7 linked regions of the Homo sapiens genome follow. The protein of the gene in region 3 purifies or fractionates together with the protein of the main gene of each other region. This does not show direct contact. Each region holds a gene or a part of one and is shown on either strand. Other genes may lie near its edges. The genes, in order: FARP2, USP46, CHRM3, HEATR3, FTSJ1, NOCT and STX18.

Region 1 (4,050 bases), on a different chromosome or scaffold from region 3:
GAACGAGGGCCAGTTCTCTGTCCCCAGGACCAGCCAGTTACCAACAACTCCACAGAATGGACAGCTTCCCTGTGCAGAGCCTGATACACCAACCAAGCCTCTCACTGGACATCAAAAATCTGAATCAACATAAGCAAGGGCAGGCAAAACATTGTCCAGATGTTAGTCTTCCCGTAAGTTAACACAAAAATTTAATGCAATTTCAACTGAAATCTCCATGGTGTTTTTGTAAGGAATTTGTCCAATGACTTAGAAGATTACTTGGAAGAATTAAATGCTTGAGAATAGCAAAGAATCTTTTTTAAAAGGAGGCAGAATAAGGGATGGAATGTGTTCACCAAACAGTGACTATCTCATATGACACCACTAATGAGAGAGAGTGGACTGATGCTGGACAGACAGGAATGGAGCAGAATGCCCAGAAAGAACTCGAGTGCAAAGACACAGGCTTCCATTTGATAAAGTCTGAGATCAGTGAGAAAATGAAGGATTCAACAAATAATGGGGAGAAATGTTACATCTCAATCTAATATCTATCAAAACAAATTCTAGGCCAGGCACGGTGGCTCACACCTGTAATCCCAGCACTTTGGGAGGCCGAGGCGGGCGGATCACAAGGTCAGGAGATCGAGACCATCCTGGCTAACACGGTGAAACCCCGTCTCTACTAAAAATACAAAAAATTAGCCACCTGTAGTCCCAGCTACTTGGGAGGCTGAGGCAGGAGAATGGTGTGAACCCAGGAGGCGGAGTTTGCAGTGAGCCGAGATCGTGCCTGGGCACTCCAGCCTGGGACACAGAGCAAGACTCCATCTAAAAAAAAAAAAAAAAAAACCAAAAAAGTAAAAAAACAAATTCTAGGGAGATTAATTAAATGAGAAAACTGAAACCATTAAAAGGTGCCAATATAATATTGGCATGGGGAAGAACTTCCTGAGCCCATACTAAGGATAGAAACCCTCAAGGAAAAGACAGCCAGAGCTGACCCTGATAGGCCCTGATTTTTCAACTTTATGATGGTGTGAAAGTGATAAGCATTCAGTAGAAACGGAACTTCAAGTGCCCATACGACCATTCTGTTTTTCACTTCCAGTTTGGTATTCAACAAATTATGTGAGATATTCAACACTTTGTTATAAAATAGGCTTCATATTAGATGATTTTGCCCAACTGTAAGCTAATGTATGTTCTGAGCACATTTAGAGTAGGCTAGGCTGGCTCACGCCTGTAATCCCAGCACTTTGGGAGGCCGAGGCGGGTGGATCACGAGGTCAGGAGATCGAGACCATCCTGCCTAACACGGTGAAACCCCGTCTCTACTAAAAAATACAAAAAATTAGCCAGGCGTGGTGGCGGGCGCCTGTAGTCCCAGCTACTCAGGAAGCTGAGGTAGGAGAATGGCGTGAACCCGGGAGGTGGAGCTTGCAGAGAGCCAAGATGGCACCACTGCACTCCAGCCTGGGCGACAGAGCGATTCCATCTCAAAAAAAAAAAAAAAAAAAAAGAGTAGGCTAGGCTAAGCTATGACATCAGAGAGGTTAAGTGTATTAAATGCATTTTCTTTTCTTTCTTTTTTTTTTTTTTGAGAGGGAGTCTTGTTCTGTCACCCAGGCTGGAGTGCAGTGGTGTGATCTCGGCTCAGTGCAACCTCCGCCTCCCAGGTTCAAGTGATTCTTGTGCTTAGCCTCCCGAGTAGTTGGGACTACAGGTGCCCACCACCACGCCTGGCTAATTTTTGTATTTTTAGTAGAGACAGGGTTTCGCCCTGTTGGCCAGGCTGGTCTTAAACTCCTGACCTTAGGTGATTCACCCACCTCAGCCTCCCAAAGTGCTGGGATTACAGACGTGAGCCACCGTGCCCTGTTAAATGCATTTTTGACTATACTATTTTCCTCTTACAATGGGTTTATCAGGGCATAGCCCCATCATAAGTTGAGGAGTGTCTGTTTCAATTCACACCTTCAACAAGCATTTGCTGGGTTCCCTATATGTGCCAGATGCCATTCTAGAGTAAGAGAAACAGAACCCATCAAGATGGAGTTTAAATTCTACAAGGTAAAACTAAATTGTAGGCAAAGTAAAAAGCAGTTACTGAGAAAATAATTTGTGACTTAATAGTGTTGGTGAGCATTATCATATAAACATTTCACTAATGTGTACAAAAAACTCACAGACCAATGGAGACCAGAGTGACCAGCACGCTGAGTGATTCCTGAGAGGAAAAGCATGGAATGCCAGGACACAGGGGCCAGGCTGGCCTCACCGACAGTCCGCAGGGATGCAAAGTGAAATGATGGGGCTGCTCGATGGGGCTGCTTACCTTACCCACTTGGGAAGAGTAAGAGAGACAGGTGCCTAGCACTTTCCATGGTGGAGGGAAAGATGCATGTTTAGACCTAGCTCCTGCAGGTGGGAAGGTCAGCTGGCGCAGGTGCTCCAACAGCAATTTAGCAGGAGTGCCCAAGGCCGTAAACACCTTTGCTCAGACAAATCTACATTTTGGAATTGATCTGAAGGACATAATTAAGGATGTGCAGAAAGACAGAGATCCAACAATGTTACAGTCCTCAACAACCAGCCACAGCCAAGCGTCCAGTGACAGGTGACTAGTTAAGTGAACTGGGGCTGCCATGAAAGGAAAGGAAAACCAGTGTCCTGACAAAACAGCCCGTGGGTGATGGCAACCATGCAGCAGATGCCTGCAGCCATCACTGCTGAGTGGGTACGATGATAGAGTTCTTTTTCTTGTTTCTTTTCTCTGTGTTTTTTTTTTTTTTTTTTTTTTTTTTGAGACGAGGTCTCACTCTGTCACTGGGGCTGGAGTGCAGTGGTACGATCACGGCTCACTACAGCCTTGACCTCCTGGGCTTAAGTGATTCTCCCATCTCAGCCTCCCAAGTAGCTGGGACTACAGGCACACACCACTTTTGCTCAGCTAATTAAAAAAAAAAAAAAAAAAAAAAGATTTTTGGAGATTTGGCTTCGCCATGTTCCCCAGGCAGGTCTCAAACTCTCAGCTTCAAGCGATCCTACCATCTTGACCTCCTAAAGTGCTGGCATTACAGGCGTGAGCCACAGCAACTGGCCAGTGATGAGTGATTTCTGTCTTATACTTTCAATTATTTTTTTCTATAATAAAGGTGTAATTTTTAAAAGTATACTTTAAAACAAATGGGGTCTGCTTCCGGTGGTGGCAGATGAGCTAATTCAAACTGACCTCTTCTTGCTGAGGGCCTGAGAAGTGGAATTAAATTTTACAAACACCTGCCTGAGGGTTTTGGCGCTCATTGTCAGGAGGAGGCAGTGCAGAGGGATAAGACCCTTGAAGAAAGAACAGGGAAAGAGGACCCCAGGGAGGGAGGACCCCACTGGGGGAGGAAGGACTCCAGGGAGGGAGGACCCCAGGGAGAGAGGATCTCAGGGAAGGAGGACCCTACTGGGGGAGGGCCCTGGGGGAGGAAGACCATGGGGAGGGAAAATCCCAGGGAGGGAGGACCACAGGGAGCAAAGGAGGACCCCAGGAAGGGAAGATCCTAGGGAAGGAGGACCCCAGGGAGGGAGATCCCAGGAAGGGAAGATCACAGGGAGTGAGGGAGGACCTCAGGGAGGGAGGACTCCAGGGAGGGAATATCCCAGGGAGAGAGGACTACAGGGAGCAAGGGAGGACTCCAGGAAGGGAAGATCCTAGGGAAGGAGGACCCCAGGGAGGGAAGATCCCAGGAAGGGGAGATCACAGGGAGTGAGGGAGGACCTCAGGGAGGGAGGGAGAAGCCGATGGAGGGAAGATCCCAGGGAGGGAGGGAGGACTCTAGGAAGGGAAGATCCTAGGAAAGGAGGATCCCAGGGAGGGAGGACCACAGGGAGGGAAGATGCCAGAGAGGGAGGGAAGATCCTAGGAAGGGAAGATCCCAGGGAATGAGGGAAGATCCCAGGAAGGGAAGATCCCAGGGAGGGAGGGAGGACTCTAGGGAGGGAAGATCCTAGGAAAGGAGGATCCCAGGGAGGGAGGACTACAGGGAGGAAAGACACCAGAGAGGGAAGACCACAGGG
Region 2 (4,050 bases), on a different chromosome or scaffold from region 3:
ACAGCAATGATTAGAAGAGTCCTGTGGGCCTCTCTCTACCCGTGTCTCCCAATACCACAGAAACAGGGCCACAGGGCCCCCTCACCACCACAGCACCCAGTCAGAACCAAACCATGCTGTGAATTTGGCCTCTGCTTTTGCCAACTTCCTTCCCCAATGTCACTCCTCCCAAAGTGCCCCACTAAATGTGGACAGCAGGTCAAAATGGAAGTAGAATTTCACTGGATCCTGAAATACCAACAGCTTTGCACTTTGAGCAAACAGAAGGAAAATAATGATGAACTAAAAGAGTGAGAATAATTATGAAAACTAACAAGCATGAAGGCATCATAGCTCACACAGTGCTTCCATGGGCAGGATCTCTTCTGATGCTCCCCAAAAAGCTTTAAAGAAGGTATTTCATTGACTACCTTTGTTGTAAAAAGATAAATAGGATCTGAGATTTACCAAACAGGATTCTGAATTCCAAACTCCTCCACTTTACAACTATATGGAAAATAGAAGTTGTTTTGTTTTTCCCAAAGCCTTGCTGCTCTAAAAATGGTCCCGAAACCAGCATTATCTGTACCACCAGAGAGTTTGTTAGAAGTGCAAAATCTCCGCCCTGCCCCAGACGTGCTGAATCCAAATTGACATTTCAACTAGACCTCCAGCTAATGCCTATGCATGATAAAATTGGAGGCATACTGCTTTACTCCAAGGCAATTCTTCCATTCTACCAAATTACATCCCTTCATTCATTTATCAATATTTATTTATTGAGCACCAACCACATATGTGCTAGGCACTGTGCTGACAGCTGGGAAATCAACACTGAATAATACAAATAAATACAGTTCCTGCCCTCATAGAGTTGTCAGTCTAACATGGTGGTTTATCAACCTTGGATGCTCACATCGGAATCAACTGTGGCACTTAAAATACACACACACACATACACACGCAGGTGCCTAAAATTCACCCCAGACTACCTATATCTACATACTGTCAGAAACGCTGGAGACTGGGACCCTAGAAACTGCATGTCAATAAAGCTCCAATTGGTGGAACCACTTTGGAGAGCAATTTGACACACCTAGCAAAGCTGCAGATGGGCGCATCCTAAAAGCAGCATATTGACTTCCAGGATTATACCCTAAAGAAATGAAGACACCTGAGCAAAGAAGACAGAAGCAAGAACATTCGCTGCAACACTGTTTCCAGAGAGAATATTGTAGAAACTACCAAACTGCCCCTAAATAAGAGAATGAATAAGTAAACCATGGTTAAGTCAAAGAATCCTGTTACAGAGCAGTCAGAATGAATAAACTCGACCTCTATGTGTTGACATAATCTCAAATATACTTGTTGAGTAAAGAAAGACAGTTGCAAAAAGCTACACGATTTTATCCACACACAAACGTTGCAATCCATTGCTTATGAATTCATAAATACAAAGTAAAGTATAAGACATGTTTGGTAAACACCATATCAACTTCAGGAAAATGGTTTGCTCTGGGAGGAAGAGAAAGGAAAGAGATTGGGTTGAGTTAGTGTCTGTTTTTAAGGTAAAAGAGTCTAAAAAGAGTTAGTGCTGTTTTTACAGTAATATGTCTAAAAATAAAAGTAACCAAATATGGCTACATTTTAATATCTGTTAAATCTGAAGGGTAGGTAAACATATATAACATTATTTTTTCATGCTTTTTTGTATGTTAATGTTTTGTGATTTAATTATTATTTTTAAAATTTCTTTTAAAAGCTTCACAGGTGATATGATATAAAGCCAGTGCTGAAAATCTCTGTTCTGAATATATAAACTAATACAAAACCTGGCTATTTAATACCAAGAAAAAGTTAAGTTGGCCGGGTGCAGTGGCTCACGCCTGTAATCCCAGTACTTTGGGAGGCCAAGGTGGGCGGATCACGAGGTCAAGAGATCAAGACCATCCCAGGCAACATGGTGAAACCCTGTCTCTACTAAAAATACAAAATTAGCTGGGCAAGGGGGCACGTGCCTGTAGTACCCTACTCAGGAGGCTGAGGCAGGAGAATCGCTTGAACCTGGAAGCAGAGGTTGCAGTGAGCTGAGATCATGCCACTGTACTCCAGCCTGGCAACAGAGTGAGACTCCATCTCAAAAAAAAAAAAAAAAAAGAAAGAAAGAGAAAAAAGAACAGAAAAAGTTAAGTTACTAGCTTAAATAATTTTACATTCATTTTTTTAAAAACTTTCACATGGCAGGTAATTTCTTAAGCAATATTTTTTAAGAGGCTGAGGTTATTACCCAAGGGAAGCAATATTTCTCCAAGCATGGTCCTCAGCTCACCTATAACAGAATGTGGAGGGAGTAGAAGGAGGAGGGAACACTAATTTAAAAGGCAGATTCCAGAGCCCCAACTAAGACCTACTTAATCAAACTCTCTGGGTGTTGAACCCCAGAGTCTAAATTTTTAATAAGAGAATGCACATGTGGGAACCATTCTTTGGTACACCAAAGAACCTAAAACCATACATTTCTTTGTTTAATGAGGTAATACTCATCATACTCTGAAAATTAAAATGAAGTGTAGAGAATACTTTCTAAATATTTAAGACAGTAATTCCACCAGTATATATTCAAGCAGATCCAGATAAAAATTTTCCTGCACTGTGTACCTAACCTGAAGGACAGAGAAATGTATTTTAGGAAGATGACCATCGTTTCACAATGCCTTTCTAAAAGAACTTGAAAAAGCAACTGGGTAAACAGGAAAACTCTGCAAGTCCAGCTTTGCTGCTGTTCTCACCAGAACAGGCCCCAGACACGATTTTCACTAAAGCCAATGTCAATTAAACAAAGCAAATGTGGCTTGAACAAGGCCTTGCTGGCACAGGCAGGTCTCCCAAATTTACTCTCAAAATTCAAGGTATCTTCTCAGTGCTACTCTATTATCTTTTTGTTACTAGTTTTCACCCCTCCACAGTGATTATCTTGTCATCATTTTTTTCACCTGCATCTTCCAATCCATCCCTACCTTTCATGACTTTTGCTTTGGTCTCCTTGATTTTCCTCTTCACTGTCCCTTCTTCATTGTCCCTGTTTTCAGACAAAACCAAAACTACAATCCTGACTTTCAAGACCTGGAAAACTGTTCTCAGGCCCCTGAGTTGAAAACAAACCAGCATAACAAACACATGAAAAGATGTTCAACCTCCCCTAGCAAACAGGAAAAGTGCAAATTTTAAACCACAAAGGCACAATGTCACACCCATCAGACTGGCAAAACATCAAGTCTAGCAATATCAAATATCTGCAAACATGTGAAGCAACTGGAACCCCCAAACGCTGCTTGGTTGGAATGCAAATTGGCATAACTTCTTTGGAGAGCAATCAGGCAACTTATTAAAGAAGACGATCAAATTCCTTTGACCCAGCAATTCCCTTCCAGGTTTACACCACAGAGAAACTGTCAACTGTCAACTGTGTATACTATACACAGGGAGATGAGTTCACAACTGTTCATTGCATTAAAACAGCACACTCACAAATTTGTAAACCTGCTTACAACATTAAAATGAATGTGTCATAGCATATTTATATAATGGAATGTTATACAGCAGTTAAAATAAACTAGGATTATGTGTCTCTCAATGGATAAATAGCAAAATCACAATTTAAACAATAAAAGCAAACTGAGAGGAATGTTTAATATTATAAAGCATGTTTAAAACATGAAAAAATACACTATATCTAGTTTATGAATGCATACAAATCTAGTAAAAATATAAAAATATACAATAAACACTAAATGCAGAATAGTGGTCACTCTGTGGGGAGAGGCAATGAGATCAGGAAGGACTCATAGGTGGTTTTAAATGTATATATAGTATTTTATTTCTTCACTGGGTGGGGAGTACACGAGTATTCACTCTATTATTCCACATTTCTGTATGTCTAAAATTCACCATCACTCAGAAAAAAAGGCAAAGTCTGAGCTAATTTAAAAAGTATCTGAGGGTTCTAAAAGTGACATTGGAACTTGAGGAAGAAAAGGAAGGTTGGCCCTATGAGGGTAAAGTGAAGCTTTG
Region 3 (4,050 bases):
CTACAATGTTTCTCGAGCAGCTGGCAATTTCTCCTCTCCAGACGGTACCACCGATGACCCTCTGGGAGGTCATACCGTCTGGCAAGTGGTCTTCATCGCTTTCTTAACGGGCATCCTGGCCTTGGTGACCATCATCGGCAACATCCTGGTAATTGTGTCATTTAAGGTCAACAAGCAGCTGAAGACGGTCAACAACTACTTCCTCTTAAGCCTGGCCTGTGCCGATCTGATTATCGGGGTCATTTCAATGAATCTGTTTACGACCTACATCATCATGAATCGATGGGCCTTAGGGAACTTGGCCTGTGACCTCTGGCTTGCCATTGACTACGTAGCCAGCAATGCCTCTGTTATGAATCTTCTGGTCATCAGCTTTGACAGATACTTTTCCATCACGAGGCCGCTCACGTACCGAGCCAAACGAACAACAAAGAGAGCCGGTGTGATGATCGGTCTGGCTTGGGTCATCTCCTTTGTCCTTTGGGCTCCTGCCATCTTGTTCTGGCAATACTTTGTTGGAAAGAGAACTGTGCCTCCGGGAGAGTGCTTCATTCAGTTCCTCAGTGAGCCCACCATTACTTTTGGCACAGCCATCGCTGCTTTTTATATGCCTGTCACCATTATGACTATTTTATACTGGAGGATCTATAAGGAAACTGAAAAGCGTACCAAAGAGCTTGCTGGCCTGCAAGCCTCTGGGACAGAGGCAGAGACAGAAAACTTTGTCCACCCCACGGGCAGTTCTCGAAGCTGCAGCAGTTACGAACTTCAACAGCAAAGCATGAAACGCTCCAACAGGAGGAAGTATGGCCGCTGCCACTTCTGGTTCACAACCAAGAGCTGGAAACCCAGCTCCGAGCAGATGGACCAAGACCACAGCAGCAGTGACAGTTGGAACAACAATGATGCTGCTGCCTCCCTGGAGAACTCCGCCTCCTCCGACGAGGAGGACATTGGCTCCGAGACGAGAGCCATCTACTCCATCGTGCTCAAGCTTCCGGGTCACAGCACCATCCTCAACTCCACCAAGTTACCCTCATCGGACAACCTGCAGGTGCCTGAGGAGGAGCTGGGGATGGTGGACTTGGAGAGGAAAGCCGACAAGCTGCAGGCCCAGAAGAGCGTGGACGATGGAGGCAGTTTTCCAAAAAGCTTCTCCAAGCTTCCCATCCAGCTAGAGTCAGCCGTGGACACAGCTAAGACTTCTGACGTCAACTCCTCAGTGGGTAAGAGCACGGCCACTCTACCTCTGTCCTTCAAGGAAGCCACTCTGGCCAAGAGGTTTGCTCTGAAGACCAGAAGTCAGATCACTAAGCGGAAAAGGATGTCCCTGGTCAAGGAGAAGAAAGCGGCCCAGACCCTCAGTGCGATCTTGCTTGCCTTCATCATCACTTGGACCCCATACAACATCATGGTTCTGGTGAACACCTTTTGTGACAGCTGCATACCCAAAACCTTTTGGAATCTGGGCTACTGGCTGTGCTACATCAACAGCACCGTGAACCCCGTGTGCTATGCTCTGTGCAACAAAACATTCAGAACCACTTTCAAGATGCTGCTGCTGTGCCAGTGTGACAAAAAAAAGAGGCGCAAGCAGCAGTACCAGCAGAGACAGTCGGTCATTTTTCACAAGCGCGCACCCGAGCAGGCCTTGTAGAATGAGGTTGTATCAATAGCAGTGACAAAACGCACACATCAACCCACAGACCTTAGGAGGAGGAAGGCGAGGGCGGGGTGACTTCTGGTGATGATAAAAATGGTTTTATCACCCAGATGTGAAAGAAGCTGCCTGTTTACTGATCCATTGAATAAACCCATTTTAATAGAAAAAGTCAATACCAATTCAGCAAAAAGAAAAAAAAAACATACTACTGAATATAAAGAAATTTATTCTGAAATAGACTTTACGTGTTTTTTTCTTAAAGAGGAGAAAAATATTGCTTGACGGCAATTATATACCCAAAGTGATTTGCCTGGGTCCTTTAATTCCCATTAGCTTTGGAATCTCAGATGAGCATAGCTGACCCAGTTCCCACATTCTTCCCAAGGATCCCAAAAGTGGGAATCCAGACCCCAAGTGGAACACTGCAGGCTTACGAATCTGTGGTTCCAAAATTATTTCATACGTTGCAAAGCTGAATCTTCTTGTCCCAATAGAGCTTCCTGTCTTTTCTTTGGTGTGTTGTTAAACTCTATTTGTGGACTTGATTCTTGATTCTTGCAAAGTACTGTTTTGTGCAGTTCAAGTTTCGTACAAATAAAAATACTTAAGTATATATATATGTGTGAGTTCTGCACGCACACACATAGTGTATATAATATCATGGGAAACACTGAACTGGCAAATTATTCCTGCAACATACGCTTTCAGTACTTTGGTAACTGAAGTTCTCTAGGATCCTAATGCAACATTAACGTGAAATAAGCCCAGTGTAATGTTTTTGAAACCAGGGCTGTTTTCCACAGAGAGCAGCCAGGCCTTCCCAGCAGGTCTGTGCAGAGCGGACAGGCTCGTGAGTCAGCTGAGCGCCGTGGCTTCGCCAGACTTGGTGTTAAGCAACCTCCTTTGTTGATGTCTCAACAGAGCTAAATCGGGGCCCCTCTGAGCTCAAAGAATGAACCACATCCACACGTTTGAATTTAATCATCTAAATCTGAATGTTTCAGAACAAAATTTCTGCTATCTAAACTGCTTGAAACTCAATAATAGTGTCACGTTTGAATGTCATACACAGCAATATATATATATGTGTATATATATATATATGGCAAAGCAAAAAAAAAAACATGGTAAGAGAGAATGAAGGAGAACATTGTGTTTGATTCTTGCTGAATGGCACCTTCTCAAAGAAAATAGGGCTTGCACCTTTGTTAATCAGCTGTGGCCAGTGCTTTCTGGTGTTCATTGTGTAACCTTCACCCAGGAATAGGTGAGGTTTTAGGAAGTTACATGTCCTCTGAAGAAAGAATTACACTCTGAAAAGTAATGCTTCAAATTGATTTCCTTACCTTTTGGGAAAAAAAAAAAATTGTTTTTTTGCATTCTCCCTTGAATTGACCAAAATGTTAACTGTTTCATTTGGGGAGGGGATGGGGTGCTGCCATCATTGTCGTTGTTGTTGCTGCTGTAGCTGTTGGGGTTTCTTTTCCTGTTGCCGGGGCTGTTTGGGGAGAGGGAGGGGAGGGAGGTGGGAGGGCCGCGGAGATATCTTCCCTTTGTACAGGGCATTCGTGTTGTGAACCCAGAGCTGGGTAGAAGCTGCTTTTGTATTCAGTGTGAGGTGGTGTTTACAGACGACTTTGACAACAGTAGAAGTGTACTCAGTGGTGTCTGTGTATCTGAACTATTTAATTTCGTGTTATGTTTATATGCAGAAATATTTATGGATACTACACCAAGTGTTTATTTAATGTTGATAAATATGACTCTTCAGTCGTCAGCCATGGTGTCCTTTCAAAGTGATTCTTTAAGGTCCACTTGAGCAATGAATAGAGTATATTGGAGCTTTCCTGTGGCTAAGAAGAAGAAACATGTCATCCTGTTGGCATCACCAAGCACCTAACTCTTTCTAGGTAATAAAAAGTCAACGGTCACTTCAACGTAAATGTTTAAAACCACTCTTTAGTTAAATCTGATGGGAACTGAACAAAGCTCCACCATTGTGTCTGAAATCATTTTACACAGGGAAAAAAAAAAACAATCAGCATAATTGTAAGAATGATTTTTTTGGGCCCACATTCAACCAAAGAACAAGAAAGAAACAGACGATTTTCTAATATGTACACAGCAAACTACAGAATGTCATATTATCCACCTGTGAAACATCTAGTAAGCAATTGCATCTATATTTTATTTCTCAAGTTGGCCTGGCACTAATAAATATGTGAAAGCTTATTCAAGTGTCCCAGTACTTCAGCACTTCCCATCCTTTTGGAAACTCCTATCTTGCCTCCCTCCCAAAAGGGCTGTTTCTTTTATTAAAAAAAAAAAAGAAATAGAATTAAATTTGAGAAAAGGAGAAACCCTGAAATTTAACAGAACTTTGAGAG
Region 4 (4,050 bases), on a different chromosome or scaffold from region 3:
CTCCCGAGTAGCTGGGATTACAGGCATCTCCACCACCACGCCCAGTTAAAGTTTTGTATTTTAGTAGAGCGGTTTCATCATGTTGGCCAGGCTGGTCTCCAACTCCTGACCTGAGGTGATCCTCCCGCCTCGGCCTCCCAAAGTGCTGGGACTACAGGCATGAGCCACCGTGCTTGGCTGAGAATTATCCAAATACCTTAATGAGGCCTTTATGATATTTATGATACAGCCTTGACTGGCCTGATATAACTGGATGCAAACAATTTTAACAAAAAAGAAAATTATAAGCCCAGGAGCTGCTTGCATACCTCGTTTTGACTCTGTACCCCATGGCAACTATAAATACATGATTCCTGTGTCTGGGAAAGGTTTCTGCACATTGGATGACAAACAATATACATTTACAAAATCCAAATTCCTGCCCCTTCAAAATTCTGTTCCGTCTGCGTAGTCTTTCGCAATAAAGTCTAAATACCTGGTTGAGAAAAAAGCAGCTGTGACAGATGCTGTGCAAGCGTCTGAAGGGCTGCGGCTCCTCCCAGGTGCTCCACATCCAGGAGGGACACAAGACTCTGGAGACAGAAGAGGGCTCTGCACTGAATAGTGTTCATTCTGGAAAGGAAGTGAAACAATGCCATCTGATTCTCCAGAAGTTGCCCATCAGAATTCAGTATTAACTTTTAGCCTAAGCTTCACGTTCTGACTGGAAATATCTGTAAATACAAGGTATCTATGGCAGTTAGCAAAGAATCACAAGGTGAACTGTTTTTTGTGTTTTCTAAAATTTATCATCATTTTTTAGACAGGGTCTTACTCTGTTGCCCAGGCTGGAGTGCAGTGGTGTGATCACAGCTCGCTGTAGCCTCAACCTCCTGAGCACAAGTGATCCTCCTGCCTCAGCCTCCTAAGGAGCAGGATTACATGTGCATGCAACCACACCTGGCTAAGTTTTTTATTTTTTGTAGATAGGGGTCTTGCTATGTTGCCCAGGCTGCTCTGGAACTCTTGGCCTCAAACAATCCTCCTGCCTGTACCTTCCAAAGTGCTAGAATTATAAGGTGAACTGTTAATCTGCCAAATCAAACTGCTTGAATATTCACGGCCTCTGATACACAACTCATTCATGAGTCATGAGGAATATGTTTTAGAAAAATTTCTATGTAGGGTAGCATCCTTAAAATTATAATTTTCTTCAGACAGGGTCTCATTCTGTTTCCCAGGCTGGAGTACAGTGTCACCATCATAGCTCACTACAGCCTTAGACTGCTGAGCTCAAGCAATCCTCCCACTTCAGCCTCCTAAGTAGCTAGGACTACAGCTGAGTGCCACTATGCCAGGCTAATTTTTGTATTTTTTTTTCCTTTGTAGAGATGGGGTCTTGCTATGCTGCCCAGGCTGGTTTCAAACTCCTGGCCTCAAGTGATCCTCCTACCTTGGCCTCCCAGAGTCCTGGGATTATAGGTGTGAGCCACCATGCCCAGCCTAAAATTATTTTTAATTGTGAAATGTGACATATATACAGTTAAGTACACAACATACATAGAGAGTTTAACAAACAGTCTATGAAACCAAAACCCATGCACCTGGGAAAGAAATTAACACTGCTGGACCCTGAAAGCCCCTGTATCTCTTCCATATAATATCCCACCTCCCTGACACCTACAGGTAAGCACCATACAGACTTCTATGGTAAACATTTCCTTGCCTCTTTTTTTTTTTAATAGGTTTATCACCAAGGTATGCATCCCTGAACAAAATAGTTCAATGTTGCCTGTTTCTCAACTTTGTAAAAACTGAATCACAGTGTGTGTATTCTTTTATGTCTCGCTTTTTTGGTTCAACAATGTAAGTTCCATCCGAGTTGTGAGTAGCTCTAATTCAGATCCCTTTTACTGCTGCATGTATTGTACTGCGTGATTTTGTCAAAATTTATTTACCATTCTAACTCTGATGGACAACACGTTTGTTTATGGGTTGGGGCAACTGTGACACACACTGCTATGAACACTCTCATATACATGTATTCTAGGGCATGTGGGCACATATTTTTCTGGTATATATACCCAGGAACAAAACTTCTGGGTCCTAGGGGGAGTCAGCACCTTCTATTTAATAGCCCATCATTTCATAAAATAAAATAATGACAAATGTTTTTGAAAGCAGAAGAGTTCTTACTTTCTAATCAAAGGTTTCCAAGTAGGGTTCCTAGAACATAGGTCAACTGCAATGCTGTTTGGAAAGGCAGTTTTCTCAAAAATCTAGATTTAAAAGAGGCAGTAAAGCAAAGGTTAAAGAGTAGTCATTTAACACGATTCCCTTACATAATTCCAACATATTACTCCTAAGTGAAATGGTTAGGCTTCATATAGAATGACCTTTTCGCCTATTTCCAGTACTGTTAGGCTCAGCTTTGTCTCAGATCTTACCACCATCTACAACCTGGAAGTGTGAGCTTGCTTCTTTTGTACACAAAATGAATACCTTGCTTAAGCCTTTCCCATGCTCCACGGTAAGCCTAGAATGAAAATGGATTACCTTCTTTGGGATGAGGTAGTTGGTGAGAGCCGTGTGAACTTCATGGGAGAGGCAGAGGGGAGAAAACAGCTGTCCCCCGCACTCACTGAAGGAATTCTCCATAAATGCGTCACTTTCATCACTGCTAGAAAGCTCTTCCCATTCGTCATCAGAGGGATCTGGGAAGCGGGCAAACCACGCAGAACTGGAATAGTTAAGAAAATCTCCACGGGAGTTTCCCTCTTGGCTCAGGGGGAAAATGTCTAAATGTAAATGTTAACAAACCTTCATTGCAGCACATGTTGACAATAATTTCCAGAGCAGTCTGTTGGGCTGTCAGCAATGCTATAGTCTCTCTCAGTTCCTTGTCAGTGGGCTTAAAAAAAAAAAAAAAAGTAAATGACCAACTCTCAATGGTTGGGAAAATGTTTTTGGGGAATTTCCTTAGTGAAAGCCTACTAGAAGATTTTTGCGCTTGGAATAGAGCACACGGGGAATGGGGTAGGTAAAAGAAAAGTCATGAAGTGCCAGAAGTACAAACGAGCATTATAATTCCTCTTGGTACAGTGGAGCATGCCCCCGTTAACTGGGTTTCCATCTATCTGCATGGCTATTCCCCAAGCGTCACTTAGTTAGCTGGAGAGAACAGACAAATATTCAGGAATTCTGAACAGAATTCACCCTGAAACTTATCTACTGTGTCAAGAAGTAGCTGGGCATACTAAGATTTAAACAAGAGTTCATTTCAGACACCAGGCACTTAGAAACACCAAACCTGCTTTTAGATGCTTAGCTTAGATGTCTTTCTTGGAATGGCTGCGCTAACACACACTACTAACGAGCCCTTATGTGACCTGTAGAACTTGCTATGGAGCAGACAGACTTGCTTCCTGCCTTTCTGTAAAGACTATAATAAAGCATTTCTCTAAGACTAAAGAAAGAAGGAAGCTTTTTTTTTCTCTGAAAATATATAACGCCAACTTAAACTTAACATTATCAACCAACATTTCTTAAAATGGGTAATATAAATTTATATAACCTTAATTATCAAATTGTCTATGGAAAGTGAAATAACCATACTGATATTCCAAAACAGTACATGAGCTAAAAATAATGTATATTTTACTATTTGAATATTTCCAAACTTCAGTTTTCAATTGTCTTTTTTTTTCCCCCTTAGAGACAGAGTCTCACTCTGTTGCCTAGGCTGGAGTGCAGTGGCACGTTCATAGCTCACTGCAGCCTCAAATTCCTGGACTCAAGCAATCCTCTTGCCGCAGCCTCTGAGTAGCTAGGGCTACAGGTGCATGCCACCATGCCTGGCTAATTTTTTTAATTTTTGTAGAGACAAGGTCTTAGCCAGGCATGGCGGTGCATGCCTGTAATCCCAGCTACTTGGGAGGCCAAGGCAGGAGAATCCCTTGAACCCAGGAGGCAGAGGTTGCAGTGAGCCGAGATTGTACCACTGTGCAACAGAGTGAGACTCCATCTCAAAAAAAAAGAAAAAAAGAAAAAGAAAAAGAAAAAAAATTTACC
Region 5 (4,050 bases), on a different chromosome or scaffold from region 3:
TGGTTCACGCATGTAATCCCAGCACTTTGGGAGGCCGAGGTGGGTGGATCACCTGAGGTCAGGAGTTCGAGACCAGCCTGGACAAAATGGTGAAACCCCGTCTCTACTAAAAATACGAAAATTAGCCGGGTGTGGTGGCGGGTGCCTGTAATCCCAGTTACTCGGGAGGCTGAGGCAGGAGAATCGCTTGAACCCAGGAGGCAGAGGTTGCAGTGAGCCAAGATCACACCACTGCACTCCAGCCTGGGTGACAGAGCGAAATTCTGTCTCAAAATAAATAAATAAATTTGTTCTGCAGAACCCTTTGGCATCTGGTTAAATCTGTGAACCCCTTCACAGAATATTTTTAAAAGTATATACATACACATACACACACACACAATTACAATGGAAGCCAATTACATTGAATTACAATTATTACTATATATTAAATTGAAACAAAATTGAGATGCAGTAATATATGGGCTTTTTAATTAATACATCAACTTACAGGATCTGCTATCATTCCAAGAGGTGACAAATATGAACAATACTTCAAGATGCCCTTTTTATGTTACATTACAGTTGCTGTAACTGGTTTGTATTGGTGGGAAAATCCCAGGTACTGCTTTTACTACTGTGATTTGTTGCCAGCATTTATAACTTGGGAGTAAGGCTAAATTTCAGTTTCATTGCTGAAAATAAAGATGTAACATTTTCTTCCATCAAGTTCATGGTTACCCCTGGCTTCTATCCAGGTTAAGAATCCCTGCCTTTAGGGAAAATTCTGGACATAATCAGGACACTCCTGAAGAGGTTTAAAGAAGAGGTAAGACCTCACTCAAGAATTCCCACTGCAGTACAGACAGACTTTCATGGTTTCTTTCCTTGTTGTCTTCAGGGTTGTTGCAGATCCCTCCTCAGGGCTTGTTTGTCCAGGCCTCGTTGATGAGATGATATTTTGAAAACAAGTTCATCAACAAGTTCCGGTTTTCCTGACATTGAGCAGTTTCTGAGTTGTATCAGTTTGCCAGCTAACCAAAAGTCAAAGAAAGTTTTTTTGTTTTGTTTTGTTTTTTTAGAGACAGGGTCTTGCTCTGTCACCCAGGCTGGAGTGCAGTGGAGCTCCATCATAGCTCACGACAACCTTAACCTCCCAAGCTCAAGTGATCCTCCCACCTCAGCCTCCCAAGTAGCTGGGATTACAGGCAGGAATGTGCCACCACACCTAGCTAACTCTGCTGCTAACATTTTTGTGACATTTCCTCCTTTTATGGTGAACCATGACATATAGAAAATGCATAAAACCTATATATGTTCAGTTTAATGAATAACTACAAGGTGTTATTTGGTGTAATTGCAGGATGTTCACTGTCATTGTTGTACAGTTCTCCACGGTGAATGTACCACGATTTAATGGGCATATACTATAGATAGTGCTGCTAGCAACACTCTAGGACTCATTTCCTTTTTTTTGAGATGGAGTCTGACTCTGTCACCCAGGCTGGAGTGCAGTGGCACGATCTCAGCTCACTGCAACCTCCACCTCCCAGGTTCAAGTGATTCTCCTGCCTCAGCCTCCTGAGTAGCTGGGATTACAGGTGCCCGCCACCATGCCCGGTTAATTTTTGTATTTTTAGTAGAGATGGGGTTTTGCCATGTTGGTCAGGCTGGTCTTGAACTCCTGACCTCAGGTGATCCACCCACCTCGGCCTCCCAAAGTGCTGGGATTACAGGCGTTGAGCCACGGCACCCGGCCTCTAGGACTCATTTCTTAGGAGTGGAACTGGCACACATGCAGCTTTAGTAGGTAATGCCTAAGTTTCCACAGTGGCTGCACCATTTTACCTTCCCAGTAGCATGTACGAGGCTTTCAATTGCTGCATATCCTTTCAAATACTTAGTGTTGTTGATATTTTGAGTTTTCACTTGTATTTTCCTGATGAGCAGCTTTTCATGTGCTTACTGGCCACTCTCATGTTTTTCCTTATTGATTTACAGGACCCTTTAAATATTAAAAACTGTAAATCTCTTTCACACAATGATTTGCTGTTTCAATTTTTTCTTAAGGTGGCTTCTTGTGGCCAGGTGTGGTGGCTCAGGCCTGTAATCCCAGCACTTTGGGAGGCCTGAGGCAGGCAGATTTTGTGAGGTCAGGAGTTTGAGACCAGCCTGGCCAACATGGTGAAACCCCGTCTCTACTAAAAATACAAAAATTAGCCGGGTGAGGTGGGAGCACACGTCTGTAATCCCAGCTACTCAGGAGGCTGAGGCAGGAGAATCTCTTGAACCCGGGAGGCGGAGGTTGGAGTGAGCTGAGATAGTGCCACTGCACTCCACCCAGCCTGGGCGACAGAGCGAGACTCTGTTCTCAAAACAAAACAAAAAACAAAACAAAAAAGGCCAGGTGTGGTGGCTCACACCTGTAATCCCAACACTTTGGGAGGCCGAGGCAGGTGGATCACCTGAGGTCACGAGTTTGAGACCAGTCTGGTCAACATGGCAAAACCCCATCTCTACTAAAAATACAAAAATTAGCCATGCATAGTGGCGGGCACTGTAATCCCAGCTATTTGGGAGGCTGAGGCAGGAGAATCGCTTGAACTTGGTAGATGGAGGTTGCCGTGAGCTGAGATCATGCCACTGCACTCCAGCCTGGGTAACAGAGTAAGACTCTGTCTCAAGAAAAAAAAAAAGGTGGCTTTTTGTGATGGCTGACTTAGTCTGAATAACCTGCTATGCCATTGTCAGAAAGGGCCATCCTCTAACATCGTGGTTTTAGAACATTTGGCTATGGATAAACTTTCCTCCCATACCACGTGCAGTTCCACCTTTGGGACATGCCTATTTCCTTTACCCAGAATGCTCTTCCCTCAGATAAACACATGGCTTCCCTCCGGCAGTGCCTTCAGGTCTTTGCTCAAACATTACCTCTGAGGAATGTCTGAGGCCTTCTATGACAACCCTTTTAAAAAGTGCAAACTGGCTGGGCGCAGTGGCTCATGCCTGTAATCCTGGTACTTTGGGAGGCCGAGGATGGCAGATCGCTCGAGCCCAGTAGATCGAGACCAGCCTGGGCAACATGGCAAAACTCCATCTCCCCTAAAAATACAAAAATTTGCTAGGCATGGTGGTACATGCCTGTAGTCCCAGCTACTTGAGAGGCTGAGGTGGGAGGATTTTTTGAGCCCGGGAAATCACACCACTGAACTCCAGCCTGGGCGACAGAGTGAGACCTTGTCTCAAAACAAAAACACCAAAAGATGAAAACTGCCATGCCTAGAATTCCTGATTCTCTTCACCCTGCTTTACTTTTTTCTATTTTTTATATCCCATATTACTCTTATATATTATATATATTGCAAGATATGTAAATTGAGAAATGCAAGCTATATAGTATATATGTGTATGTAAACTCTTGCACTTACAGACTGTTTTGATTGTTGCCTCTTTTCCAAACTGGAAGTACTGTGAGAGCCAAGATATTTCTGTTTTGCTCCCTGCTCTATCTCCAAACCTAGAACAACACCTGACATACAGTATGTGCTCAATAAATGTTTACTGAATGCCTCAAATGTAAAATGCTTAAAGCAGTTCCTGGCATACAACAACAGATGTTTAGAAAAGGGTTTGTTGATTAAAATCTTATCAGTTGACATAAAAATTTCAAAGGTGAAATTTTACTGAGGTTTTTCATAAAGGTTGCCCTTACTCAAACTCTTAGATAACAAGGCAAACTTACCGTAATGGGTTAAGGTGAACAACTCATTTCATTGTCTTCCATCTACCCAAGAAAAAGAAAAGTGACTCACATATTTGGCGAAACTTTTCCATTCATTATGCTTGGCTTTACCAATTTTTTATAGCTATTGGGAGGCAGGAAAGGGAATTTTGGCCCCAGAAACCATGAGATTTGGGTCAGAAAAAGGCACACGGGGAAGGGGTCAAGGCAGGCTGAGAGTCACATTTCCAGACCTCAGGGGCCAGCAGGGTGTGGCACTGAGGGGCGGCCAGGGGCTGGGGAAACGTGTCCACTCTGCTGATGGGGCAGTCCTGGGGGCGGATCTCCTT
Region 6 (4,050 bases), on a different chromosome or scaffold from region 3:
TTGATAGCCACTTAAGTGGTGGTTATACTTCAGTAGATAATTAGAAATTTGAAGGACAGTGTGCCTGGGCGTTTAGCCTCATAGTAAACCTGTTTGGACTTCCACGGAAAGCAGCTAAGATACTTTTTATTTATTGTTATTCTTAGAATGGGAGAAAATCAGCCTTCCCACGGAGGGAGTGAGACCTCAAGTGAAAACCTTAGCTGTCCTCTGTATCTATGTGGCCTCAAAGCAACACTTGAATCATATATTAATACTTAGCAAGAATTCAGTGTCAGGTATGTGGGCAACAGTGCCCAGGGGAAAGAAGGCTAAACAAAATTGGTACCATCCAATTTGAATGTCCTTATAACAATTTTTTTCTCCTTCCAGTATATAAAAAAATGCGTGGGTCCCATTCAGATCTTCTGGATTTTAATATCTCCAAGTGGGGCCTGAGCATCTGCTGATTCTGACATAGGCTCCGGGTAGACAACAGCCACATATTGACAACACAGGCGGACACCTGTGAGGAGGCTCGTTTTACTAAATGCTTAGAAGCCTATTCTAAGTCTCTCAGTGATGTGATTCTCCTGTCCAAAAGTTAGAGACCACTGTTGGATTGTGGAGAGTTGTGCAGAAAGGAAAATATTTATTTTATTTATTGTAGAGACAGGGTCTCACTGTGTTGCCCAGGCTGCTCTTGAGCTCTTGGCAAGTCCATGAAAATAAGTGCTTAGAAGTTACGATGCTGCCCGGGTACCGTGGCTCATGCCTGTAATCCCAGCACTTTGGGAGGCCAAGGAGGTGGGGGGAATCACTTGAGGTTAGGAGTTCGAGACCAGCCTGGGCAGCATGGCAAAAACCCCATCTTTATGAAAAATGTAAAAATTAGCCGGGTGTTGGTGGTGTGTGCCTGTAATCCCAGCTATTCGGGAGGCTGAGGCAGGAGAATTGCTTGAACCAGGGAGGTGGAGGTTGCAGCTAGCTGAGATCGTACCACTGTACTACAGCCTGGGCAACACAGCAAGACTCCATCTCAAAAAAAAAAAAGAAGTTATGATGCATCCAAAGTGACAATAAGAATTGTTCCGGAAGGATATCTGGGAAATTCCTTGGTCTTGATGCATCCTTTCTAGCTGTCTTCCTTTCCCTTTTCTATCTTTCCTCCAACTCTGAGGTTCCAGTACTTAAACAGCTCTGTTTGCCGATCTGCAAATATGCTTGTGACTGCAAATATCTTGTCTAGTACAGGGTGCAAAGTAAGTTACACTGCAGATTCTAATAATACCTGGGATATAATACTTTTCTATTTCCTCTTGTGTGTTTTGCTTTTATGGATGCTAATTATCATTGAAGGTCTGCTGAAGGAAAATGTTTATCTTTCAAATCTTGTAGGTCAAATAGACTCTCTGAGACTTAGTTCTAGAATTAGTTTAATATTTTATTTTTTTGAGATGGAGTCTTGCTCTGTTCCTCAAGCTGGAGTACGATGGCGCGATGTCAGCTCACTGCAACCTCCGTCTCCCGGGTTCAAGCGATTCTCCTGCCTCAGCCTCCCGAGTAGCTGGGGATTACAGGCCCCTGCCACCATGCCCTGCTAATTTTTTGTATTTTTAGTAGAGACGGGGTTTTGCCATGTTGGTCAGGCTGTTCTCGAACTCCTGACCTCAGGTGATACACCCGCCTCGGCCTCTCAAAGTGCTGGGATTACAGGCACCATGCCCGGCCTTGCCTCTGAACTTTTAAAGACCATTGTGAGTATTGATTATCTGTAGAAGCTTACAAGATTTCCTTATCTTTGGTATTCAAAAGATCCATCAGGTTGAATGTCTCAGCATCTGATGCGCCCATCCAATCTAAAGACATGCCTTAGCACATTAAAAGTTTGTATCGGTTGTCTACTGTATTGTCTCTTGTTCTCATGTTCTTGAACTCCTGTTAGATTGTTGGCCATATGGATCTATCCTCCGTGTCTATTCATCCTTTTTTTTTTTTTTTTTTTTTAAATTATTTTAGAGACAGAGTCTCCACTTTGTCACCCAGGCTGGAGTGCACTGGTGTGATCATAGCTCACTGTAACCTCCAACTCCTGGGCTGAAGTGATCCTCCCACTTCAGCCTCTGAAGTAGCTGGGACTATAGGTGTGCTCCACCATGCCTACCTACTTTTATTTTTTTGTAGAGACACGGGTCTCAGCTCAGACTGGTCTCAAACTCCTGGGCTCAAGCAGTCCATCTGCTTCTGCCTCCCAAAGTACTGGATTACAAGCATGAGGCACCTAGCCAGGCCTCCATTCATATTTTAGTGTTTTTATCTCTTCTCTGTTGCATGAGATTTTCTGAAAATTTTTGTTCTGCAGTCATTTTAAATTCCTAGACATTTCTAGTTGTTTAATTGCTCCTTTTTTCATAGAAACCTGTTTTGTGTCTATAATGTCTCTCGTACTTTAAATATATCAAGATGTGTGTGTGCCTGTTTCTCCTTTAGGCCTCTTTCCTGGAGAGGAAGGGAGTTTTGCATGTTGTTTTATTTGTTTGTTTGTTTTTTGAGATGGGGTCTCGCTCTGTCACTCAGGCTGGAGTGCTGTGGCGTGATCTCAGCTCACTGCAGCCTCCATCAACCTGGTTCAAGCACTCCTCCCACCTCAGCCTCCCAAGTAGCTGGGACCACAGGCATGCACCATCATGCCTGGCCCAGTAATACAACAGTTACTGTATTTTTAGTAGAGACAGGTTTTCCCCGTGTTGGCCAGGCTGGTCCCAAACTGCTGAGCTCAAGTGATCGGCCCACCCCGGCATCCCAGAATACTGGCATTACAGGTGTGAGCCACCGCGCCCAGCCAGTTTTGCATGTTCTGAGTGGGAAGGTAATCTGGAGAACGGGCAGCCAGGCTTCCTTGTTGAATGCGTGAGAGGGAGCAGGCTGGTAACTACCGCCTTTGTCAAAGAAAGGAGGGTTTCCTTCTATATTCTTCAGTCCAACCCCTTCCCCGCTTTTTAAAACCATCCTTGAGTTTCAGAGTTAGCTCCTGATCTGGTCTGCTTCTCTTTCAGGTCCATTCACCTTTGCAAGCCATTCTAAGGCTATCACCCATTTTCTTTGGGGTATTCTTTGGTTCTATGGAGCAACCAAAAGCCACCCTTCCCGGCTTTGTCTGTGAGAGAGGGGACACATGTAACTAGTGCCACCGTTCACTTTCATTCTTGAACGAATTGCCCTAACAGTTACCCCCTCAGCTTCTCCTGCCCTTTCTATTTCTTGATTCAGCTTGGAGTTTCTTCAAGGTGCTCTTGGGAAAACCACATTTACCTTTGGTAACTTGTACTGCCCTTTCCTTCTGGTTTCTCTGTTAATTCAAACTTGTTTCTGTCTTCTTGGAATTCCTCCAAATATTTGCTCCATTGATGTCATGCATCCCTTCTTGTTTTCCAATGTTATTGATGCATTCTTTAAAAAATTTTAAAGAGGCCAGGCGCGGTGGCTCACGCCTGTAATCCCAGCACTTTGGGAGGCCAAGGCGGGCAGATTGGGAGTTCCAGACCAACCTGGCCAGCATAGTGAAACCCTGTCTCTACTAAAAATACAAAAATTAGCCATGCGTGGTGGCGGGTGCCTGTAATCCCATCAGCGACTCAGAAAGCTGAGGGAGGAGAATTGCTTGAACCTGGGAGGCAGAGGTTTCAGTGAGCCGAGATGGCGCCATTGCACTCCAGACTAGGCAACAGAGCGAGACTCCGTCTCAAAAAAAAAAAAAAAATTTAAATATAGGCACTTTATTTCTTCAAGATCTTAGGAAGGAGAGAAAGTAAATGTATTTTCTACTTTGCTGTCTTGGCCTAGAACCAACCTGCCCAATGATATGCAACATATTCTTTTTTTAATATGTGCCTTAACTATTCAAGCAATGCACTGGGAATTTGTATATGAAAATTGTTTCCCCTCCTTTTTAAGTGACTAAACATCTTTTATTGGTTTTATGATATATATACAAATAGACTAGTGGTGAGCATAGCTGCCTTCCAAATGGACTATACAATTTTATTTTTTATTTATTTTTTTAGATGAGTC
Region 7 (4,050 bases), on a different chromosome or scaffold from region 3:
TCTTGAAGTCTCCCTGGCCCTCTGCTCTCTCTTGAGGTACTACTTACTTTCTCCCAGGGGCTAGAGCCTTATCTTTCCCATCAACTGTGAGCTCCCTGAGGGCAGGAATCACATCCCTGAAACTTATTGAGCTCCAATGTGACACCCAAAGGAAATACTCATTGGAGCTTTCCAGATTTTAGTTTTCAGATTAGAGATGCTCAACTGGTAAGGACAATGCAAATATGCAAAAATTTGAAAAAACCCTAAATCCAAAACACTTCTGGTCCCAAGCATTTCAGATAAGAGATACTCAACCTGTAATTTCTGTGACATGTCCAGGACCATGCCTAGCATCTGGAAGACAAGAGTTAATAAGAACTGCCATGAGACTACGGAGAAGGATGCTAAAGGGGACTCCCAGGTCTCTCCTGGCTCCAGCACGCCATCACCCTGTGATTCACACAAAGAACCCTGCTCCACTCTGCCTTTGAGATATGGCAAACTATGCAGGCATCCCTACGCAGGGGTACCAGCCAGACACACAGATCGCAGACATCCATGACCACACTGTGTATGTCCCCCTACATTTTCGGACTTCATGGAGACCCTGTATTTCTTCTGCATCTCCTGTGCATCAGGAACTATTCTAAGCCATGGGCCCTCTAGTATCTGTGGTGATAGGCAGCACGTCAATTCAGATTTGCATTTTGTCCTGTTGGTTTGACTGGCTGTGCAAGGCTGCTGAGGTTATACACTCTACCCGGATGCAGGCCTGGCAGCTCAGAGCTGACATGCAGGGCATGGCTGCCAGGGAGGCAATGCTGCCTCTCCTGAGGCCGGCACACAGGGCTCCTGAGGCAGACAGCTCCCGGCCTCACCCCTCCAGCAGGCCCTTTCTCCCGGACCCCGCCAGCTCCCAGGTGACTGGGTGAATGCACCCCCTGCCTCTGTGGCACTCACGAAGATCAACTGTGACAGACACAAAGGCTGCCGCCTCCTGCTTCCTTTGCTTTATGCAAATACAAACACCAAAACATGTCTGAGACTGTGCTACTTCGTTCCTGTGCTGTACTCTTGCCAACATGTCACAAGGAAGAAATGCAAGGTGAGATTTTCATCTCAATTCGTACCTGGACGTTCTTCAGTGGCAGGGTTTTCTTCAGAGTCTTTTGAAGGACTCTGTGAAACTTTCTCAGAAGATGTGGATTCTCTTGTCTTTGTATTTGGTTCTGGTTCCAGCTTAGATCTAAAAATAAATAATTAGCAGGCAGGTATTTTATTTCCATAACAGGATTCCTTTTTGAAAACAGAAGGAGTCACATGTGACCCTGCGCTTTTGCTCTGTGTCCCTGTACTGGGGAGCAGTCACTGCCTCTGGGCCCAGTGGCCATCCGGACACACCTCCACTGGGGCACTTAACACTGGCATTATTGCCTGCAGGGTAGAGATTGTGCATGCCCTCTGCATTTGCAGCCACGGCACAGTGACCAGCATGCAGGGGGAGGCTGCAGTTGGTATGTGCTGAATACGCTCCATAGACTGACACACCGCACTCAACAAACCCAGGAAGCTGGATTGATGCTTACCCAGTAGTTGACACTAATGCAAAAAGATTGCTGAGTATGTTATTAATAATAATATATAATACATATTATACATATATTCATATATATATATATACCCCCACACACATATATACCCCCAACACATGTATACCCACACATATACACACACCACACACACACATATATACCACATATATATACCCATGCACACATATATACATACCCTCCCACATATATACCCACACACATATATACCACCACACATATACCCCCACACACATACCCCCACATGTATACACACAATATATATACCACATATATATACCCCCCACACATATATAACCCCCTACATACACACATACCCCATATATATACATACATGCATGTATATCCCCCACATATACACACACACCACATACATATATTCACATATACTCACCCACATAAACACACACACATATATACACACACATACCCACACATATACACATACCATATATACACACCCACATACATATACTACATATATATACCCCCCACTCACATATATACCCCCTACATACACACACACACCATATATGTGCAGATATGTATATATACCCCCCACATATACCCTCCCCCACACACATATATCTACATACACATATATACATACACACACACACTCATATATACCCCCACATATACATACACATATACTCCCACATACACACACAGAAACACACACATATATACCCCCTACCCATATATATACACACACACACCCCCACACACATACCCCCCAACATATATACTCATACACACACATATATATACCTATACCCACACACGTATATGTTCTAAGTCACATCTTAATATAAGTTAGCTCTGAAAGCACAAGTCCTTAAATACCCACTTGAAGGCACAGACTTGTTTCAGGACTGAGTCCTCTGCACTTGGCATTCCCCTGTTTCTTCCCCACGGGCTCTTCCCAGGGCATCGTCTTCCTTCCCATCTACAGGGCTCAGCTCAATTTCACCTACTCAGAGAGGCCACCTCTGACTCTTCTGTGAAGGAAAGGCCGCCTCCCACTCCTCTGCATCTGTTTTCTCCATAGCAGTTATCACAGTCTATAATCCCCCTGTTTATTTATCTGTTGGTTGTCAGCCTTGCTCCTAGATCCCAGATTCTGGATTAGTGCCTGGTATTCCATTGCATAAATATATGTTGAATGAATGAGTGCATTATAAATACAAGTAACTGGTTAATAAGAAAACGTTTAGGTTATGCAATAACAGGCTTTGTAATAGCTTTACTAGAATCTACATAAATGCTATAAAATTATAGGCAGAGTGCTATCTAGGATAAATTCCATATTGTTAGGCAGAGAGACTGTAATTAAAGGAACAATGTAAATGCATATTAGGGTGATATTACTAATGCCAGCTAACATTTGTTAATGGCTCATATAGTGGACATTTTTTCTAAGCAATTTGTATGGATAAATTTATTTAATTTCGAATATCCCCATCAGGTAGGTACTAGTATTAACAACCTTTTAACAAAGGAGGAAACTGAGGTGTAGAGAAGTTAGGAAACTTGCCCAGGTCACAGTCAGCAAATGGCTGGGCTGGGACATGACCTCAGGGAACCTAGCTCTGAAGCCCATGCTCGTAACAACTGCTCCATGTGGGGTATATTCTACCCATCCTGGGCTGTGGGAAAGGACTTCTGTGGTCGAATCAGTCTGAGAAAGCTGAGTCAAAGCTAGAAAGGTGTTTCACTATATAAGTTTTCAGAGCCTTTAATATGCTCAAATACATTTTGAATTTCCAAAAAGGATGGTATTTGCAAATAACCTGATTGCAGACACTCTCTTCACAGAGTTTTTTGAGAGCAGTTTTCTCAAAAAGACTATTTAGGAAATGGTCCTCTACAAAATTTAACAAAAAATTTTTTCAAAAGTCACTGTTATCAATCTTTTTAATTGTTCTGGTTACTACAGCTGAGTCATAAAACTTAGTGCCTTGAAACAGTGAGATTTATTACTGATCACTGCTTCTGGGGTCAGGAATTTGGGAACACCTTGGCTGGGTGGTTCTGGCTCTGTGTGTCTCAGGAGGGTGCAGTTAGAAGGCAACTAGGGCTGCAGTCATCTGAAGGGCTGACCAGGGCTGGAGGGTTCACTTCCAAGGAGGCCACACACATGGCTAGCAAGTTGGTGCTTGCTGGGAGCCTCATTTCTTCTTCATGGAGCTGCATGAGTGTGTTACTGGTGCATGGCAGCTGGCTGCCTGCAGGGCTGGCAGTCTTAAAGACTTTGGTGGAAGCTTCAGTGCCTTTCATGACCTAGCCTTAGAAGTCAGAAATCATAATTCTGGCCATATTCTACTGCCCAACACATTCACGATGGTCCACTGGAGTTCAAGGGGAAGAAACACAGACTCCAATTTGCTTTCTCAATGGAGCAGTAACATCACTTTTTAAGAAGAGCATGTGGTATGGGATCTATTTGGGGGCAGCT

Evidence for each region.
Region 1: the proteins of CHRM3 (region 3) and FARP2 purify together in Homo sapiens (affinity purification with mass spectrometry; 2 studies listed by BioGRID and IntAct, with this or other methods). This does not show direct contact.
Region 2: the proteins of CHRM3 (region 3) and USP46 purify together in Homo sapiens (affinity purification with mass spectrometry; 2 studies listed by BioGRID and IntAct, with this or other methods). This does not show direct contact.
Region 4: the proteins of CHRM3 (region 3) and HEATR3 purify together in Homo sapiens (affinity purification with mass spectrometry; 2 studies listed by BioGRID and IntAct, with this or other methods). This does not show direct contact.
Region 5: the proteins of CHRM3 (region 3) and FTSJ1 purify together in Homo sapiens (affinity purification with mass spectrometry; 2 studies listed by BioGRID and IntAct, with this or other methods). This does not show direct contact.
Region 6: the proteins of CHRM3 (region 3) and NOCT purify together in Homo sapiens (affinity purification with mass spectrometry; 2 studies listed by BioGRID and IntAct, with this or other methods). This does not show direct contact.
Region 7: the proteins of CHRM3 (region 3) and STX18 purify together in Homo sapiens (affinity purification with mass spectrometry; 2 studies listed by BioGRID and IntAct, with this or other methods). This does not show direct contact.

Annotation. Positions count from the first base shown.
Region 1 is NC_000002.12:241,485,201-241,489,250, reverse strand, and holds part of FARP2 (FERM, ARHGEF and pleckstrin domain-containing protein 2), read right to left. Parts: intron 1-4,050. UniProt on the Homo sapiens protein: Functions as a guanine nucleotide exchange factor that activates RAC1. May have relatively low activity. Plays a role in the response to class 3 semaphorins and remodeling of the actin cytoskeleton.
Region 2 is NC_000004.12:52,648,974-52,653,023, forward strand, and holds part of USP46 (ubiquitin carboxyl-terminal hydrolase 46), read right to left. Parts: intron 1-4,050. UniProt on the Homo sapiens protein: Deubiquitinating enzyme that plays a role in behavior, possibly by regulating GABA action. May act by mediating the deubiquitination of GAD1/GAD67.
Region 3 is NC_000001.11:239,907,568-239,911,617, forward strand, and holds part of CHRM3 (muscarinic acetylcholine receptor M3), read left to right. Parts: coding exon 1-1,657; 3' UTR 1,658-4,050.
Region 4 is NC_000016.10:50,082,777-50,086,826, reverse strand, and holds part of HEATR3 (HEAT repeat-containing protein 3), read right to left. Parts: intron 2,891-4,050; coding exon 2,800-2,890; intron 2,720-2,799; exon of another isoform or gene 2,694-2,719; coding exon 2,536-2,693; intron 2,259-2,535; coding exon 2,176-2,258; intron 613-2,175; coding exon 476-612; intron 1-475. UniProt on the Homo sapiens protein: Plays a role in ribosome biogenesis and in nuclear import of the 60S ribosomal protein L5/large ribosomal subunit protein uL18 (RPL5). Required for proper erythrocyte maturation.
Region 5 is NC_000023.11:48,482,699-48,486,748, reverse strand, and holds the end of FTSJ1 (tRNA (cytidine(32)/guanosine(34)-2'-O)-methyltransferase), read right to left. Parts: coding exon 3,955-4,050; coding exon of another isoform or gene 3,898-3,954; exon of another isoform or gene 3,795-3,897; intron 3,764-3,794; coding exon 3,731-3,763; 3' UTR 3,722-3,730; intron 3,509-3,721; exon of another isoform or gene 3,408-3,508; intron 1,014-3,407; 3' UTR 399-1,013; downstream 1-398. UniProt on the Homo sapiens protein: Methylates the 2'-O-ribose of nucleotides at positions 32 and 34 of the tRNA anticodon loop of substrate tRNAs. Requisite for faithful cytoplasmic translation.
Region 6 is NC_000004.12:139,022,081-139,026,130, forward strand, and holds part of NOCT (nocturnin), read left to right. Parts: intron 1-4,050. UniProt on the Homo sapiens protein: Phosphatase which catalyzes the conversion of NADP(+) to NAD(+) and of NADPH to NADH. Shows a small preference for NADPH over NADP(+). Represses translation and promotes degradation of target mRNA molecules.
Region 7 is NC_000004.12:4,437,282-4,441,331, forward strand, and holds part of STX18 (syntaxin-18), read right to left. Parts: intron 1,229-4,050; coding exon 1,113-1,228; intron 1-1,112. UniProt on the Homo sapiens protein: Syntaxin that may be involved in targeting and fusion of Golgi-derived retrograde transport vesicles with the ER.